Homo sapiens: one gene and its partners. The protein of the gene in region 1 purifies or fractionates together with the protein of each later gene. This does not show direct contact. Each region holds a gene or a part of one and is shown on either strand. Other genes may lie near its edges.

Evidence for each region.
Region 2: the proteins of PRICKLE1 (region 1) and ARHGEF10L purify together in Homo sapiens (co-immunoprecipitation; one large-scale study listed by IntAct). This does not show direct contact.
Region 3: the proteins of PRICKLE1 (region 1) and INAVA purify together in Homo sapiens (co-immunoprecipitation; one large-scale study listed by IntAct). This does not show direct contact.

What each region holds. Positions count from the first base shown.
Region 1 is NC_000012.12:42,467,646-42,471,296, forward strand, and holds part of PRICKLE1 (prickle-like protein 1), read right to left. Parts: intron 2,715-3,651; coding exon 2,601-2,714; intron 1,943-2,600; coding exon 1,805-1,942; intron 1,185-1,804; coding exon 981-1,184; intron 1-980. UniProt on the Homo sapiens protein: Involved in the planar cell polarity pathway that controls convergent extension during gastrulation and neural tube closure.
Region 2 is NC_000001.11:17,546,158-17,549,808, forward strand, and holds part of ARHGEF10L (rho guanine nucleotide exchange factor 10-like protein), read left to right. Parts: intron 1-3,651.
Region 3 is NC_000001.11:200,908,295-200,911,945, reverse strand, and holds part of INAVA (innate immunity activator protein), read right to left. Parts: intron 3,217-3,651; coding exon 3,006-3,216; intron 2,723-3,005; coding exon 2,549-2,722; intron 494-2,548; coding exon 1-493. UniProt on the Homo sapiens protein: Expressed in peripheral macrophages and intestinal myeloid-derived cells, is required for optimal PRR (pattern recognition receptor)-induced signaling, cytokine secretion, and bacterial clearance.

The DNA of each region.
Region 1 (3,651 bases):
TGAGGTGCAAGAATCACTTGAACACGCGGGGCGGAGGTTGCAGTGAGCCAAGATTGCACCACGGCACTCCAGCCTGGGCAACAGAGAGCAACTCCATCCCAAAAAAATAAATCAAAACAAAACAAAAACAAAAATATGTTCAAATAGAACATTGTTGAAAAAAATGTATAAAGTAAATGAATGTATAAAAATAAAAACAAAGTTTATTGTCATAGATTGAAGGAGACTAAGAAGATACAACGAGTAAATGCAATGAAGCACCCTGGATTGATCTTGGATAAGAAAAGGAGCATCTGTTAAAACACTGGGAAAATCTAAACAAAGACTATGGTTTAGTTAATGGTATTACACTGCTGATAATTTCTTAGTTTTGATACATATATTATGGTTATGTAAGACGTTAGTGTCAGGGGAAGCTGGGAGAAGGGCATGCAGGATCTCTCTGTAATAGCTTTGCAACTCTTCTGTAAATCTAAAATTATTTTAAAATAAAAAGCTAAAGGGAAAAAATTTTTCCTTTCAAGCCATCATCCATTCCCACCTTCCCCGAGGGTAACTACTATTAATTTGGTATTTGTCTTTCCATACCTTTTCTGAGCATAAACAAATACATATATCATATTGTTTTTTAAATTCTTAACAAAAATGAGACCATCTACTACATGCTCTTCTGCAGCTTGTATTTTCTCACAACCCACTGAAGACATAATACTTATCAAAGTACAAAGACATCTGCTTCCCTTTCTATCAGGAAGGTGAAAAATTAATTGCGGTTTTGACCATTATGGCAAAAAACCGCAATTACTTTTGCAGCAACCAAATATAGATCATTTCATTGTATGAATGTACAGGATTATGTTTAAAACATGCACACAGAACAAAATCCAGGAAATTTTAGTATTTTGCTTGATGTAAACAGTGGAATATTGGCTTAATCTAAGCTTATTTTTCCCAGTGTGAAAGGATGAACTTTTTTTTACCTCGTCACATGCTGAGCACCGTGGTTTGAGCAGTTCTGCATGGTGCCTGCCACAGTGAATTTTTCCATCCTGATAAAAATAGATGAGGTCGACCAGCAGCTCATTACACGTGAAACAGACAAAACAGGATGGGTGCCAGCACACACCAGGGCCCGCACGGGAGGCGAACACTGCAACTTCACCTCCATTTATCTTCAAACCACACTACAAACAAATGGGTTTGAATGTAAAAGGATCATTTTTTAAAGACAGGATTCTCAGGCTTTCCTACTTTAGGATAAATCTCGAATTTGTCAGGAATGTATTTATTTTTGCTACCTCTTTTAGTGATTAAATAGCTCTTTAATGCTGGATTACTGGTGATTCTCCACTGTAAGGCACGTGTCTCAGACATACTACAACTATTTCTAAGGACGGTGTAATCTGATTCACACAAATAGTGGTTTTCCTGTGCCAGCCTCCTGCTGGATACATTTCCTACTCTGAGAACTGCCAGCAAAGATCTGAATGTCTTCATTATGTTTCTGCATCTTTTGAATACGAGATGTATCCTAGCACCTACCTCCATGCCAGGATCCTACCAAAGGCAGGATTTCACCCAATGTTTGCATAAGGGTGACTGACTCCTGCTGTCATACACAGCAGTGTAGCTAGTTACAAATATGAAACATGATTTGCTATTTAATAAAAAGCTAGGCTGTCTTTCTCTCATTTTCTGGAGGCTTTCAGGACCCACACCTCTGCTAGTCCAGTCACCTACCCCCGACTGTCCACCCCATCCACATCACTGCCACAAGCTACGCATCAGAGAAGGGGCTGCTCACCTGCTCACACACAGCATGCATGACTGCTCTGGACAGAAGCTTAATTGTTCCTCTTCCCAGTGCTTCTTTCTTCCGCTGAGCACTGAACACCTGCAACTCTTTTTTCTCCTCTTCACTCAAAGACTGGCAATACCGTACCTTCACAGAAAGCAAAACAGAAACACCACACTGAGTGCACAGTCTTTCTCACCAGTTCTCTACTTCCAGAGTTAGGGTTTCAGGAAGTGAAACAGTAAGTTTAGCTCGCCTGTGTCACACCCCCACGATTTTAAAATGACACCATATCTGAATTTTACAGCCTCTCTAGAAAAAGGGAAATGCAATGTGAAGGAATACTTTTTTTTTAAATAAGAAATGTTTAATTGAAAACCCTTATCAACACAGAATTAAAAAATATATATAGGACATTAACCTTTCCACAAAAGGTTTAAACTTGTTAATTGCCACTTTTACTCTCCATTCTACATGCACTCAACTCAACTGCAGGCCTGAATGACCATAAAGCATTCACTCTGGATGCAGGGGCTGGGAAATCTCAGGAATTTGTAGGTTCCTGATCATTGGTGGGTGGCTGCAAACACTATAAAAACCAACTTGTGTTAAGTTTATTACACTGATACTCTTTTCTCTCTTTCTCTCAAAGAATGGAAAGCTGTATTCTCTGGCCAAATTTTAACTAAAGAAAGGCAAAAGGGAGCCCTCGCCAGTGAGGAGTTGGGGTTTATGAGCAGCATCTCAATGCTTCTCATGCATTTTTTCTTCTTTTTTCTAATTAGCCTTCTTCCTGCTATTTTACCTCATTATCATGTGGTGGTAACTGGTACAAAAGCTGTTTAATCCGATGCTTCTCTCCGGGGCTGTTAACGTAAGGAACTTTTTCCTCTGGTAAGCAAGCAAAATAGAGCTGGATCTGCAAAAGAGACAGTGAGAATGGCATCAACATACAGAACTGAGCATCTCAGCTCACTTAATCTTTAAAAGTTACCTTTCCCTAGGTACAGGGTTTGGCCTCTTGTAGCTAATGAGAAGACCAGCTGAGCCAACTCAGCAGAACTGCAAACCTTCAGATAACTAGCACCCAGCTGCTAAATTGCTCTTCAGGAATGTAATTTGTAGTGACAATTAGGGACATCATAAATTATGCACCATAAAATATGCACATTTAAGACCACTCTTCCCGGTGGTGTGGCTCACGCCTGTAATCCCAGCACTCTGGGAGGCTGAGGCTGGTGGATCACCTGAGGTCAGGAGTTCGAGACCAGCCTGACCAACACGGTGAAACCCTGTCTCTACTAAAACTACAAAAATTAGCTGGGCGTGGTGATGCACGCCTGTAATCCTAGCTACTCGGGAGGCTGAGGCAGGAGAATCGCTTGAACCTGGGAGGCAGAGGTTGCAGTCACCCAAGATCGCGCCACTGCACTCCAGCCTGAGTGACAGAGCAAGAATCCGTCTCAAAAAAAAAAAAAAGACTACTCCTCCTCAGCCAGTCTTCCAAGGGGTCAGACAAGAGATCAGCAAGAGAGAGAGTCCTGGGTGAATCCTGCAAATTACTACACAGACTGTGTGAAATGGTCCAAAATCCAGCCACTACACGAACACATTTAATTTGCTCTCTGAATTTTACACAACACAAAGACAAAGGCTGTTTTGCTAAATGTTGTAAACTCTTCTTTATCAGGTTCTCTCAAACATCAGCTTTCTTTGCTTCCATGAGTGCTATTTTCTGAATACCTGAAGTCAGCCTCCCCAGGCAAACTGGAGAGAAGCCACATTGAGCTGTACTTTGCTCACTCTGAAAGGAAAACTTAATTTCTGCTTGTTTGTTTTTCTGATGTCTTTAAAGG
Region 2 (3,651 bases), on another chromosome or scaffold:
TTTGAGGTTTCTTGGTAGTTTCCTGCTGTCCCTGAAGCTTGCTGGTCTTCCAGCCCCTGCATCTGTGGCTGGTGGATTCTCAAAAAAAATCCATGTTAATATCAAGCACAAAACTTAATTGGGAAGAGGGGTCTCCTGTTCTCCCCCCATTGCTAATTGATACCAGAAAAGCTGCTTCTGTCCTTCATTTAGGCAGATAATTGAGAACTTGTTTGCTTAAAGGCAACTGATTTTGACTTTATGCCTATAGGTGCCAGATATTTTTCATGCATCAATTCATTTAATTTCCATGCCGATCCTGCAAGTACGTCCTATTTTCCGATCTTATCGATGAGGAAATTGAGTCTCAGAGACTTATCCAAGGGCACTGTGTTTGTAAGTGGCAGGATTTGAACCCGGCAGGCCCTGAGATCTTTCTGCAGTCCCGTGCTCCCCTCCTTTATGCGGTTTTCCTTTTCCCTTTGAGGAGGGGAGGGAGAGATTCATCACATGCCTGGAATCTCAGCACACTTTGCCTTTCTTAGTTCGGAGTTAATGTATGTTTTTTTAATTCAGTGTTGGCAAGGCCCAGTCTGGTCATAGCTGGGTTTGTTACCTTGTGGCTCAGGGGCAAGGATGAGAATAGAATTCTGGTACCCACACGGGCTCCCTAGGCCTGGTGTCAGGAAAGAGCTAATACTAATGGCTCATAATTGCAGAGTGGCAGGCACCTTGGTAGTGCATGGCTCGTGGGAGCTTTCTCAGTTCTCAGCTACTCCAAGAGGTGGGGTGCATCATTATCTCTGTTTTGCCTCCATTGAACTTGCCCAGGGTTGAGCAACCAAGAGTTAGAAGCACCACATTCTGCTCGCCCCGGAGTCCTGCCTCTCCACTCTTGTGTCTTTCCTTGAGCAGCGCCAACCCTCCCAGGGCCTGGCCCGGCTGTGCCTTTGACAGCCCCTAGCAGCAGTGCCCATATGCTATGGAAAATGGGGAAGGATAATTGACCACTTGGCCACAGGCCCAGGGTCTGCCCACCTCTTGGTTAGAGCCAGCACTGAGCTCCCTGCCATGGGGTTCATCTTCCCACTGGCCTGTTGGTTGAGAGGATGGTCTCAGACCAGGCCCCAACACCACCTTCTTGCAGATACATCCCCAGTCCAGGGCAGTGCAGGTGGTTTGTGATGGTGCCAGCCCATGTTGGCATGTTGGGCCCAAGATGAGGTGGCATTTCTGAGTTTTGGAACCCCTCTTTCTCCTTGAGAGCCTGGCCCCAGAGTGCCCTCCTCTCTGTAAAAGTCCTGGTTCTAGTCGCTGGCTGATTGGTATGCATCCCAGAATCCCGGCCATTAGCATACAAGGCGGGAGCCAGCTCTCATTACTCCCCTCTCTTCATTGTTTGAAGTGGGCAGACTTGGAGTGAGCTTTGGAAATGTGGGCTTTTTATTCAATTTCCCTAGAAAAACAATGGTTAAATTAAGTAGGAAAATAACAGTCTCCCGAAATTGAAGAAAAATATTCCTGAACCTAGACATTACCCACAACCTTTGAATTTCTTTTAAAACAGGCATTTGTTTTACTTTAAGTTATACATGTATCGCATGACCACTGAAGAAAACACAGAGAAAATACAGAGAGAAGAAAATGGAAATCATTTTGCCACCTGAAGACAGCCTCTCTCAATATTGTGGTGCATATCATTCATGTATTCAGTGATTCATTTACTCATTTGGCAAGTATCTATTTAGGGCCCACAAAGGGAGAGGCTGTGTTGGGTTCTGGGAGTAGACGCTGGGAGTAGAGGGGTACCCTGCTCCCTGCTGGGGCTCTTTCTATGTTGGGCCTTGGGCAACTCACTTGACCCTTCTCTTATCTGTTTTCTCATCTGTGGAATAGGGATAACACTAGTAGCTGTGTCATAAGGCATGGAGATTTGACAAGAAAGGGCAGGTAGGATGCTCATGATATTGCGTGGCCCAGGTCAAAGCTTAGTAATGTTGGCTTTTGTCATGTAGGGGAGGAATATCTTTTCTTCTACCCTGTTAGGTTCTGTGATAGAGCCTATGAATTAAACTGACAAAAGACAGATTAATAGGAGAAAAGGCATATAGATTTTATTTAATGTTACTATATATATGTATTTTTTTACTGTAAGGGGTCTCCATAGAAAAGAAATGAAAATCCAAAGAGGCAGTTAGACCCAGGAGCTTACGTAACATTTTAACAAAGGGCGATAAATTGTGGAGAAGTGAGGAGACAAAAGAAAAGTATTGGACTCTTAGGGGTCAGTAAATTTCAGGAAAGTGACTAGGAAATGTATGGTAGATAAGGGTGGTTTAGTAAGGTTTGTTATGCAGATAAAGTAAGGTAGAGGGGTACACCTTTGCAAATGGAAATTTATGTCACCTTTACAAAGGGAAATGTGTGCCCTGCTTTTAGGCAGAAAAGGGGAGGCAAAGAGCTCTTCCTGTATTGGCTGCTGCTCAAGTACCTTGAGCTCAAAATAATTCTTTTTTTTTTTTTTTTTTTTTTTTTGAGACAGCATCTTGCTCTGTTGCCCAGGCTGGAGTGCAATGGTCTTGGCTCACTGCATCCTCTGCCTCCTGGGTTCAAGCAATTCTCCAGCCTCAGCCTCCTGAGTAGATGGGATTACAGGTGCGCACCACCACACTCAGCTAATTTTTGTATTTTTAGTAGAGACAGGGTTTCACCATGTTGGCCAGGCTGGTCTTGAACTCCTGACCTCAAATGATTCTCCTGCCTCAGCCTCCCAAAGTGCTGGGACTATAGGTGTGAACCACCACTTCTGGCCCTGGGATGGCATATTCTGATCCTTTTCAGTTACAACAGTGAGTAAGCTGACATTAACCTTGCCCTGGTGGTTTTGTTTTTGTTTTTGTTTTTGAGATGGAGTGTTGCTCTGTCACCCCGGCTGGAGTGTGATGGCATGATCTTGGCTCACTGCATCCTCTGCATCCTGGGTTCGAGCGATTCTCCAGCCTCAGCCTCCTGAGTAGATGGGATTACAGGCGCCTGCCACTATACCTGGCTAAGTTTTGTATTTTTAGTAGAGATGGGGTTTCACTATGTTGGCCAGGCTGGTCTCGAACTCCTGACCTCAAGTGATTCTCCCACCTCAGCCTCCCAAAGTGCTGGGATTACAGGTGTGAGCCACGGTGCCCAGCCTCGTGAGTCTTATATGATGGTGGAGGAGACAAAAATCAAACACATCAAATTTATAAAGTAACCACATGTTATGCATTAAGTCCTGTGAAGGAAACAGACTGGTGGATGGTGATAACTGGGGATGAGGGGTAGAGAGGGTGTATGTGGGGGTGGGGGTACAGGATTCGTTAGCTGCAGGTGGTCAGGGAGGCCTCTCTGAAGAGAGACATTTAAGCCAGACCTGAATGACAAGCAGGAGCTCCCCCTGCAAGGATCTGAGGGAAAAGTATTCCGGGTAGGAGCTACAGCAAATGCAAAAGCCCTGAGGCCAGATGAACTTGGCCTGTTTAGGAGGGTGTGGAAGAGGCCATGTTAGTTAGGACTGTTACTCTAGGTGCAAAAGGAAACCATCGGAGGTTTGTTTTCCACTTCCCATAAATACCTTTACTAATGAAATATAGTTCCAAGATTCCAGCTAGTAAAAACTCTGTTAAGAAATTCACCTTT
Region 3 (3,651 bases), on another chromosome or scaffold:
GGGCGTCCGCACGATGCGGCTGCGGGAGGGCACCAGACGCTGGTAGCGCAGGGGAGTGCCCTCCTCCTCGTAAGCAGGGCCCGGGGCTGCGCGGCGCAGCTCCCACTCGCCAGGCGGCAGGGGGCTCTCAGCCACCACCACGTACCGCCCCGCCGGGAAATAGCCAGGCGGCAGCAGTAGCTTGGGGTGGTGGGCGACCAGCTCTCTGCTGCCGGCTGGGACCCAGGCCCCGCGGTGACGATGGGTCTTGGGAGGGGAGAGAGGCTGCAGAAAGGAGATGTCGGGGCTGCTGCTGCCCGGCGAAGTGGGGTGGGAGATGCTGGAGACGTCAGAGCCACTGTCTTCTGAGCAGGAGTGGCAGGCGGCGTGGGGCAGCGGGGGCTTGGTCGCGGGAAAGCAGGAATCTGGCACTGTCACCGTGTAGTGAGTGGGGCGGCGGCGGGGAAAGGCGCTGCGACCTCGGCCCTCAGGACCCGCCCGGAAGGAATCCACCCTGAAGAGGGAAAGAGAGGCATTCTGAGTGTGGGGGGCAGAAACTCCACACTGGGGTTGGGGCGGGAGGTGGAGTTAAAACAGGTGAGTCCTGCTCTACCTCAAGGCCCAAGCATGGCCCTCGTGCAAGGGTCTTAGGTCAAGTCTCCCAAAGCAAACCAACAAACCCTCTGCCGGGCTGCGTGGGTGCCAACGCATTCCTTCCCTGTGTGCAAAAGTGTTCCTGCTGCATTCACAAGCTTGTGATTCGTGTAAAGTGTGCTACATCAAGTAGCACATTAAGTACTTTTTTTAAAGTACTACATTAAGTACTTTTTTTAAAGTACTACATTAAGTACTTTTTTAAAGTACTACATTAAGTACTTTTTTTAAAGTACTACATTAACTACTTTTTTTAAAGTACTACATTAACTACTTTTTTTAAAGTACTACATTAAGTACTTTCAGCTTAGGTACACCGTGTCCAGTGGCAGATCATCCACAGCATCTGTTCGGTAGGCACTGCCAGGTACCTTACTTGAACGTGTAAAAGCTGTCATGTGGTACCCAGAGCAGTTACCTGCAGCCCAAGACCGGCAGGGGCTGAAATCCAGCCTTCACTTCACTCTACTAATGCACCCAGGTATGGGGCTGTGTCTGCCTTTTCCTAATTTGCACAAAGGCATGGTTTGTAAAATGGCCCTCGTAGCATGTAAAATATAAAATCTATTGCTGTGTGGTGGCGGACGCCTGTAATCCTAGCTACTCAGGAGGCTGAGGCAGGAGAATCGCTTGAACCTGAGAGGCGGAGGTTGCAGTGAGCAAAGATTGCGCCACTATACTCTAGGCTGGATGACAGAGCAAGACTCTGCCTCAAAAAAAATTTAAAAATTAAACAAAATCCATTGCTTTACTTGAGAGCAGTTGTCCCAAGCTGCCCCCAGTTCAGTGCTGCCTGACCAGCCAATTTAAGCTGATGGAGAATTCAGCAGTGCTTTCATGGTGCCCCAGTCCCCATATGGTATGGCCAATACTGCCTGTCAACGCTTAGCCATTTAAACTATTACCAAGTAGCAGATGACTTAGAAAGTAACATACAGTCAATTCTCATTATTTGCAGATTCAGTATTTGTAATTTTCCTAGTTGCTAAACTTTATTTTTAATCCCCAAAGCAATATACACAGTGCTTTCATGGTCATTCTTGGACACTGCAGAAAAGTGACAAATTTGAGTCTCTTTAAGTTCTGAGGTTAAACGAGGCCATGTTCTGCCCTCATGTTTCAGTTCTCATGCTGTAAGTGCACAGTGTCCTTTTTGTGGCATATTTATGTACTGTGTGTGTTTTTGCTTTGATTAGTGATTCTGCTGTTTAAAATGCCCCCAAATACAGTGCCAAAGTGCTGTCTACTGTTCCTCCCTAAGGCATACTGGGAAAAGGCTGTGGTGTGCCTTGTGGAGAAAATATGTGTGCTAGGTAAGCTTCATCTGGGTATGAGTTACAGTGCTGTTGGCCATGAGTTAATGAATCAACAACCCATATTAAGTAAGGTGTCCTTAAGCAGAAACTCACATAACATAAGGTTATATATTAATCAGTTGATGCAAAATGTCGTGACCAAAGGCTCACGGGAACCTAACCCTATATTTCCCCAGGGGCAAGGGTTCAGTATTTGCTAATTCAGGATTTGCGTCAATTTTACTTTATAGAACATAACTACCACAGATAATGAGAATCAACTGTGCATCAATTGAAAAAGTGAGTTGCCTATTGTCAGTGACCAATAATAATCTACCAGCACAAGGAAACATGGCAAGGGTAGAAAATTTGAATCAAGTTATGCAAAAAGACAAAACTAGAGTCTTTGGAAGAAAACCACTTGCTTCATGGATGGCCTTTGGCTTAGTGGGGTGCAGTGCATTCTCTGTCAAGAGGCGCCCCAAGAAGAGATCCTAAGAGAAGTCAAGGCACTAGCCATGTGTCACCCAGGGTTGTCCCACCTGTGTCCTGGGAGCTCCCACCCTCCAACGATAAGCTCTAAGTGGGTCCCCCATCTCTCTGGGGAAGCTGTCTCTTACCTCAGAGACTGCGACTGGCCCCTCCTCCCCTGTATCTCAGGGGTGGCTGGGGCACTGGTGCGGCCCTGCCACTGGCCAGGAACACCACGGATGGGAACCACGTGGTAGGAGGCAGGCTCCAGAAGCCACAGGCTGGAGGCACTGGGCCCATCCTGTGGTGTGGTGGCTGGGCTGCTGCAAAAGGATTAGAGACAGGTCAGTGGCAGGAATGCCTCCATTCAGGGGCTCAAGAGGTGCAGAAGAATGGGGATGCAGTGGAAGGGGCTCCCAAAGTTAGTAGGGCAAACTGCCAGCACCCTTGGGGAACTATCAAGGCTCACACCTCCATCCCACGACTGCAGGAGCTCTCTCCTCCACCTTTCCACTTTTCCATCTGCCCAGCCTATAGCCATCCCCAGCATAGCTCCCACCGACTCCCTGCCCTGCCCTGCCCTTCTCCCTTCCCCCTGATCCTGACCTGGACTCGCTCCAGGGCTCAGAAGACTTCCTGGGCTTCTCATAGGGGTGGTCCAGGCTGGTTTCCTTCCAGGGGCTGTTCTGGACTGGAGCCCGTTCTGGGCTCCCAGCCTCAGGTCCTGTTGGCTGCAGACCCTCAAGGGTTTGGGGTGGGAGAGGCCGAGAAGGTGGGGCTGGAGACTCTGGAGGAGGTTTTGGCACTTGGGATTCCTCTGCAGGAGTAAAAGAAACCTGGTAAGGCCAGAGGCTGGGGGAACCGGCCCAACAAGAACCTCCACAAACCACAGCCCATGCCTCGCCGCTCTCCCTCCCATGCTGGCTTGTGCAGCTGCTGCAGGCCATGGCTCCAGCCCTAGATGCTCAAACATGTTTTCTTCTCCTTTGGGACTTACTTCTTCCCACACAGCCCTATTTTATGCCTTCCTCCTTCAAGAAGCCTCCCAGATTGACTCTCTTGGGCTTACAGTGCTCCACTTTCTAACCTTTGTTCCTGGTACCATGTCTGCAGTTATCTTTTGTTTACCTATTTTTCTTGTTCCTGCCATGCCCATATGGCCTATTTATTTCCTTATTGGCTTGGGCACTCCCCTGGGCAGGACTGCAACAGCTTCTCGATCCACCTTGACCCTGGCATCCTCATGGTTTGT